2 linked regions of the Homo sapiens genome follow. The protein of the gene in region 1 purifies or fractionates together with the protein of each later gene. This does not show direct contact. Each region holds a gene or a part of one and is shown on either strand. Other genes may lie near its edges.

Evidence for each region.
Region 2: the proteins of PPP6R1 (region 1) and ARHGEF2 purify together in Homo sapiens (affinity purification with western blotting; 2 studies listed by BioGRID and IntAct, with this or other methods). This does not show direct contact.

The regions. Positions count from the first base shown.
Region 1 is NC_000019.10:55,252,143-55,256,045, reverse strand, and holds part of PPP6R1 (serine/threonine-protein phosphatase 6 regulatory subunit 1), read left to right. Parts: intron 1-272; exon of another isoform or gene 273-371; intron 372-2,454; exon of another isoform or gene 2,455-2,617; coding exon of another isoform or gene 2,618-2,620; intron 2,621-3,903. UniProt on the Homo sapiens protein: Regulatory subunit of protein phosphatase 6 (PP6). May function as a scaffolding PP6 subunit. Involved in the PP6-mediated dephosphorylation of NFKBIE opposing its degradation in response to TNF-alpha.
Region 2 is NC_000001.11:155,950,685-155,954,587, reverse strand, and holds part of ARHGEF2 (rho guanine nucleotide exchange factor 2), read left to right. Parts: intron 1-1,759; coding exon 1,760-1,960; intron 1,961-2,352; coding exon 2,353-2,472; intron 2,473-2,601; coding exon 2,602-2,669; intron 2,670-2,811; coding exon 2,812-2,847; intron 2,848-3,054; coding exon 3,055-3,105; intron 3,106-3,251; exon of another isoform or gene 3,252-3,315; coding exon 3,316-3,759; intron 3,760-3,903. UniProt on the Homo sapiens protein: Activates Rho-GTPases by promoting the exchange of GDP for GTP.

The sequences.
Region 1 (3,903 bases):
ACCTTTCTCTGGCTTCAGTTTTCATTAATTCAACAAGTAGCTTTAGTTGGGCCTGGCCTTATGCTAGATCCTGGGAAGTCGGCATGTTTCAGGGGGAGGCAGATGACTGAACAGGTACATCCTGTCACAGAGCCGAGGCTCACATGCTGTTCCAGGGTGACTGCGGGATGCTGTGGAAGCGGCGTGGAGCAGGCCTCTAACACAGATGCGGGGGGGAGGCTCCCTGGAGGAAGTGGTGTCTGTGTGGGGGCCTGAAGGACCCAGGAGGAGCTAGTCAGACTCGAAGAGCTCCGGGAAGGAGGAGGGAGCAGCCCAGCCCCGGCTGAGGGCAGTCAGGTGTGACGCCCACGCGGGAGGTAGCAAGAGATGAGGTGAGAGAGGCCTGAGAGCTTTGGTGAGAGTGAGGGGCCTTGCCAGAGTGGGAATCACTCGGCACCCGGCTTGATGGGGCTCACCTGCCTTTCCATGCCAAACCGTGGTTTTCCCTTTGCACACCAGTTTTGTGGGTCCTTCTCCAGAGAGTGCTGCCTTATAGTAACCCCATCTGTGAGGTATTTCCCGGATAAGGAAACTGGGGCTCGGTGGGGTGAGATCCTTGGTCTAGGCCACAGAGATTTCAGTTTGGGGAGGTCAAATGGGAATGCAAGCTTTTCTGACTTTGGATCACACTGTAACCCTAACTCTGCCCCTTTCTGTTTTTCCAAAGAGCTATTTCAAATCCGTTCATTGGTCTTTTCCTTTCTTTCCTTTAAACCTGTGGCCAGTTCAGGAGACGATTTGAATGTGGATGTTCAAGTCCCCGTCCCAGTCCTTGGCCAGTGTTTCTAGACTCTTCTGTTTCCTAGTTATTCCATCCTCTGGGGTTGGACCAGGGCTGCTAGCTCCCTTGGGAGGGTGTGCTTCTGGGGCCAGAGGGGGAGGCACTGAGGGTTCTCTTTAAGTGGGGACCCTCCCCAAGGCTTTCCCAAGCCACAGGAAAGCCCTAGCTCATCATCTTGTTGGGCCTTGGGCCGCTCCCCCTTCTCCTCTGGCCCCAGTGGCCCTTTCTATCAAATTGGTGTCCCTGGTTCCTCCTTGCTGGGTGGGTGATGCCGGATTCTGCAGCCGGCACACACCGTAGGTCCTGCCCAGAGGTGGTGGGGTTGCCATTACTGTCACTGCATCCCTGGAATTGGGTGTTCCCAGCCCCCTTTCAGATTTGGCTGAGAGCTGACAGAGGCTTGGGGGACATTAGAGGGAGATGGTCTTGCTGTCCTCCGGACTCTGGGCCCTTTAAGGAGCTGGGTGCTGGCCAGCCTGCTGCTGGTAGCAGGCTCTTTCCCTTCCTAGGGTACCGGCCAGGGGGCCAGGCGTTGGAGCTTCTGCTGAGCATTGGGACAGCTCAGGCAGCTGTTTCTGGAGGCCCCCTGAGGCATCTGTGCCCATGACCTCCATTTCTGGGTGCTCGTGGGTCAGCGCAGGTTGGGAAGGGGTGACAGATGAAGCATGGGCCCACCGGTTCCCTGGCGGCAGAGCTGTGCTTGGGCGGATACGTGCAGCAGTGGGGATGGCTCTGTGGGAGCCGCAGTTAGTGCCTGTCCAAGCAGGGGAAGGAAGGGGCTGGCAGGCCCTTGAGGGGTGGCTGGTGTTGAAGGCCCTAAAACACCACAGCTAAGTCAGAAACCAGAGGCAATAGTGCAGAGCTGGTGGAGGGAGAGCGGCAGAGGTAGTTTTCGTTTTTAATGGCTTCCTTTCTCATTTACAATTTCCCCTTCTTCCGTTTGCAGCCAGACTCATGGTTTTCAAACGGTAGCTAAAAACTAGTGGTAGTCACTTCCGCTTTCTTGAAGTTGCTAAAAGTTGCAAAGAATGGGGGTGGCGGGGTGCATGGCGCCTGCCGTAGTATCCGAATGGTCTGAGGAAAAGTACTTGAGTCACTTAGGCAAATGGGTAGAGTCTTTCTCCTGCTCCTCTGTGTTTAGCACCATCACCTTTGGGGTAGTGACCGGTCCCCTACCTGTCCTGCCAGAAAGCATCTGGACGTGGCCTCAGGGTTGGACCGGAAGAGACTTGCACCTGCTGAGCTCCTGCTGTGTCACGGCCACCTGCTTTAGCTCAATGCCTTTTCACAGCAGCCCGCCCTGGTGGGCTGTGTCTCCTTTTCACGGATGAGGAAATGAGACTCAGAGAAATCAAGCGCCTGCCCAGGTTCACCAGGAGAGTGCGAGTGAAACCCACTCTCCTGCTCCATTCGCAGGGATTCTAGCAGGCTTCATTAGGTTGGGAGAGGGGACTGAGAGGGCTTCAGGCCATAGTGCATTCAGAGGTTGTGGTGGGGGAAAGTTTTTTTCTCTTTTTTTCTGTTCTTCCATATTTGCATCTTCATTCTGTTTAGAGCCTGATAATTGAGGTCTGTAGAGTGTCGACCACTCAATTGCATTTGAGCCTTTCAGTCTATTCTGATTTTCAGAGGAGCCACTTGAGATGGAGAGTTCAGGGCGCTGCCTGGGTTCTCAGGGCCGAAGTTCTTGGATGCCGTGCACCAGCGAGCACCCTCCCGTCTCATTCTGGCTGCCCCTGCCCCAGTTGTCTGGGGAGCTCGGTTTGGAGGGGAAGCCTGACCTTTTCCCCGAAGCAGATGGTTAGTCTGTACCAGGGGTAGGGGGTTTGGGGGCCGAGGGCCATGCCTGTGCCCTTTAATCAGGTATCTTAGAAGTGAACGGTGGGCCTCAGTGTGAGAATTTCTGCCTGTTGTTTAGAGACCAGGGCACACTGGAAGCCTCTTGCTAGCCATGTGGCTCCACCCCTCTGGGCCCCTCTTCCACATGAGACTCTGTCGGAATAATAAGAATTCTTTACTTGGTCTTGATGTGGAGCCGAGACAAGTGTCTCTGCAAGTGCGGGTCCATGGATTTTCTACAGATGCTGGCTTGGTGCTGCTCCTATCCCGTCCCCACTGTGGAGGGGCTCACTTAGCTTAGAGCTGTTGGTGGTGAGGGATGGGGAAGGGGTAACCTGGGTGAGTGCCCCAGGGCTGAGCCTTGGCAGCTTCAGCTCTGCCAGGCTGGCCGGCATCTCATCAGCTCTGCGGACGCTGGGACATAGTGCAAGGCCTGAGCCTGGCCCTGGCTCTGTCCCTGCCATGGCCGATGGCCTGAGGCAGGTTTTTTTTTTTCCCCCAACAGTTTTTATTGAGATATTCTGTACAGTTCATCCATTTAGAGTGTACAGCCAGGCGCAGTGGCTCACGCCTGTAAGCCCAGCACTTTGGGAGGCCGAGGCAGGCAGATCACTTGAGGTCAGGCATTCAAGACCAGCCTGGCCAACGTGGTGAAACCCCGTCTGTACTAAAAAAATGCAAAAATTAGGCCGGGCGTGGTGATTCATGCCTGTAATCCCAGTGCTTTGGGAGGCCCAGGCAGGCGGATCACAAGGTCAGTAGTTCGAGACCAGCCTGGCCAATATGGTGAAACCCCGTCTTTACTAAAAAAACACACACAAAAATTAGCTGGGTGTGGTGGCGCACTCCTGTAATCCCAGGTACTCAGGCTGAGGTGGGAGAATTGCTTAAAACCGGGAGGCGGAGATTGCAGTGAGCCGAGATCGCGCCGCTGCACTCCAGCCTGGGTGACAGAGCGAAACTCTGTCTCAAAAAAAAAAAAAAAAAAAATCAGCCAAGAATGGTGGTGCGCACCTGTAGTCCCCACTACTCGGGAGGCTGAGGCAGGAGATATGCTTGAACCCAGGAGCTGGAGGTTGCGGTGAGCCGAGATCGCGCCACTGCACTCCAGGCTGGGTGACAGAGAGAGACTCTGTCTCAAGAAAAAAAATAATAAATAAAGGGTACAATTCAGTGGTTCTTAGTGTATTCACAACGTTGTGGAAACATCACCACAATTGATTTTGGAACTTTTTTTTAATCAC
Region 2 (3,903 bases), on another chromosome or scaffold:
GGCCGGGCGCGGTGGCTCACGCCTGTAATCCCAGCACTTTGGGAGGCCGAGGTGGGCGGATCACGAGGTCAGGAGATTGAGACCATCCTGGCTAACACGGTGAAACCCCGTCTCTACTAAAAAATACAAAAAAAAAATTAGTCGGGGGTGGTGGCGGGTGCCTGTAGTCCCAGCTACTCAGGAGAGTGAGGTAGGAGAATGGCATGAACCTGGGAGGCGGAGCTTGCAGTGAGCTGAGATCACGCCACTGCACTCCAGCCTGGGCAACAGAGGGAGACTCCATCTCAAAAAAAAAAAAAAAAAAAGAAGTAGATTGGCTGGATGCAGTGGCTCACGCCTTTAATCCCAGAAGGATTTGGGAGACAGGAGGATCTCTTGAGGTCAGGAGTTCGAGACCAGTCTGGGCAACAAAACATACATAGCAAGACCCTGTCTCTACAAAAAATTAAAAAAAAAAAAATAGCTAGGCATGATGGTACACACCTGTAGTCCTGGCTACTCGGGAGGCTGAGGTGGGCGGATTGTTTGAGCCCAGGAGTTCAAGGCTGTAATACACTATAATTGCACCACTGCACTCCAGTCTGGGTAACAACAACAACAAAAAAAACCCCAACAAGGTAGAATATTATTGCTGTCAACATAACAGTTCAAAGTGGGAAGTGCAGAGTAGTGGTGCAGCTCTGCCATCTTTAACATGAAGTTTTCATCTCTATGTCATGTCTGAAGTGGCTACTCCAGCTCCCACTGTCACACCTGTATCACACCTAGCAAGGAGGAGTAAAGGAATAGAGTTTATACCCTTTTTTCTTTTTCTTTCTTTCTTTTTTTTTTTTTTTTTTTTGAGACAGGGTCTTGCTCTGTCGCCCAGGGTGGAGTGCAGTGGCGTGGCGTGATCTCGACTCACTGCAACCTCCATCTCCCACGTTCAAGTGATTCTCCTGCCTCAGCCTCCCAAGGAGCTGGGATTACAGGCATCCACCACCACTCCTGGCTAATTTTTGTATTTTTAGTAGAGATAGGGTTTCACCATGTTGGCCAGGCTGGTCTCGAACTCCTGGCCTCAAGTGATCCACCTGCCATGCCCAGCCTATACCCATTTCTTTTAAGAGCAGATCTGGAAGATGCTCATATCCATTGGCCAGAATGTAGTCATGTAGCAATATAGTCACGTGCAAGTCAGGCTGGAAAACATAGTTGTTAACTGGGCAGCCATGTGTGCCCAGATGAAACTTCTATGCATTTTCTCATTAAAGGAAGATGGAAAGAATGAACACTGTTGGACAACCTGCAACCCCTTCCACAAATCTTTTTTTTTTTTTTTTGAGACAGAGTCTTGCTGTGTCGCCCAGGCTGGAGTGCAGTGGTGTGATCTCGGCCTCACTGCAACCTCTGCCTCCTGGGTTCAAGCGATTCTTGTGCCTCAGCCTCCTGAGTAGCTGGGACTACAGGCGCGTGCCACCACACCTGGCTAATTTTTGTATTTTAAGTAGAGACAGGGTTTTGCCATGTTAGCCAGGCTGGTCTTGAACTCCTGGCCTCAAGCGATCCACCTGCCTTGGCCTCCCAAAGTGCTGGGATTACAGGTGTGAGCCACTACACCTGACCAACAGAAAGCTTTTTCTTTTTTATAAATGCCAAAATAACAAAATTAAGTCTGCCACACTGCCCCACCCTACCCCTCTCCCCTAGGGCTGTCCTCTACTGGCGCTCTTGCATACCCCTACGTCCTCTCATGTCCTCACTTGTTCCTTATCTGCAGTGGAGTTGCAGCAGAAGGACCGGGCACTGGTGGAGCTGCTGCGAGAGAAGGTCGGGCTGTTTGCTGAGATGACCCATTTCCAGGCCGAAGAGGATGGTGGCAGTGGGATGGCCCTGCCCACCCTGCCCAGGGGCCTTTTCCGCTCTGAGTCCCTTGAGTCCCCTCGTGGCGAGCGGCTGCTGCAGGATGCCATCCGTGAGGGTGAGGGAGCTCCCAGGGAAGAGTCCAGGCTCAAGCACTCACCGTCACAGAATGTGGACATGTGACTAGACATGGACAAACACAGACAAGTGGGATGCCAACCCTATAAACCATAAACGGCCCTGAGTGCCTCTTCTGGGCCAGTTCCTGGGAAAGGCAGGGGAGGAGGTGTGGTCCTTGCTGCTGCTCCATATCGTCCATGCTGCATGGACTCTGCTGCCTCGTAGGCATTTACTGCCCTTTACCTCATCAGTGGTTGTGTGAGTGAAACCCCACTGCCAGTGCAGGGGGCATTCCCCCAGATGCCCAAGTGTCCCACATGTGGGGGTGAATGGCATTCCCCTCAGGGTCCTGTGTCATTCCTGTTCTCACCTCTTCCTCTTTCCCCACAGTGGAGGGTCTGAAAGACCTGCTGGTGGGGCCAGGAGTGGAACTGCTCTTGACACCCCGAGAGCCAGCCCTGCCCTTGGAACCAGACAGCGGTGGTAACACGAGTCCTGGGGTCACTGCCAGTGAGTACCAGGGCAGGGGACCAAGGTAGTAGGTGGGAGGGGCCAAAGTTAGTAGAGTGGTACCAGGGATCAAGTGGTATCAGGGCCCCAGGGAAGTGAGCTCAGCCATCCTTTTCTCCTTCTCAACAGATGGTGAGGCCAGAACCTTCAATGGCTCCATTGAACTCTGCAGAGCTGACTCAGACTCTAGCCAGAGGGTAGGTCCTCAAGAGGTTCTGGGACTTGGCAAGAGGGTGGGAGAGGGACAGCCAGCCTCTGGATCCTCAACACAAAGCTGTCAGGGGCAGGCACCCAGGATTTGTGTGCCTGCTGACTCCCCATTCTTGCCCATTTCTGCAGGATCGAAATGGAAATCAGCTGAGATCACCGCAAGAGGTGAGATGGGAATTGATGGTATAGGAGACTGAAGGGAGGATGTTCTTAGTCTGAGTAGTTAGAGCCCAGTTTGGAGTGGGGTGGGGAAAGCGTCTACATTCAAGTATGTCTCCGGATCCTACTGTCCCCACACCCACCCTTGTTCAACTTTTGGGCAGTTCTCCCATCCTAAAGCTGGGGCCCTGTTCCCACCCTGTCTGTCCTCAGGAGGCGTTACAGCGATTGGTCAATCTCTATGGACTTCTACATGGCCTACAGGTCAGTAGGACAAGGGCTTGAATGGGGAAGGGGAGGAGCCAGGCTAGAGATGCCTGTTTAGGTGGGGCATGGTCATCCCAACAGGCCTTTCTAAATACCCTCCCAATCCAAGCTCTCCAGGAGCGATGATCTGGGCCTTGGAGGGTGAAGGCGAGGGGTAGAAGAGCACAGGGGTTCTGATAAACCCTTCTGCCTGCATTCTACTCCCAGGCAGCTGTGGCCCAGCAGGACACTCTGATGGAAGCCCGGTTCCCTGAGGGCCCTGAGCGGCGGGAGAAGCTGTGCCGAGCCAACTCTCGGGATGGGGAGGCTGGCAGGGCTGGGGCTGCCCCTGTGGCCCCTGAAAAGCAGGCCACGGAACTGGCATTACTGCAGCGGCAACATGCGCTGCTGCAGGAGGAGCTACGGCGCTGCCGGCGGCTAGGTGAAGAACGGGCAACCGAAGCTGGCAGCCTGGAGGCCCGGCTCCGGGAGAGTGAGCAGGCCCGGGCACTGCTGGAGCGTGAGGCCGAAGAGGCTCGAAGGCAGCTGGCCGCCCTGGGCCAGACCGAGCCACTCCCAGCTGAGGCCCCCTGGGCCCGCAGACCTGTGGATCCTCGGCGGCGCAGCCTCCCCGCAGGCGATGCCCTGTACTTGAGTTTCAACCCCCCACAGGTAAGGTGGCCTGCAGTGGTGAATGGACCTGGGGTGGACATAAGGGTCCATGGAGCCCGAAAGAAATTGGGCCATTGGGGATTTGAGCCCAAATGCAATCAGTCAACTGACTTGAAGGATATTGAGATACTGGTTGGAGAACTG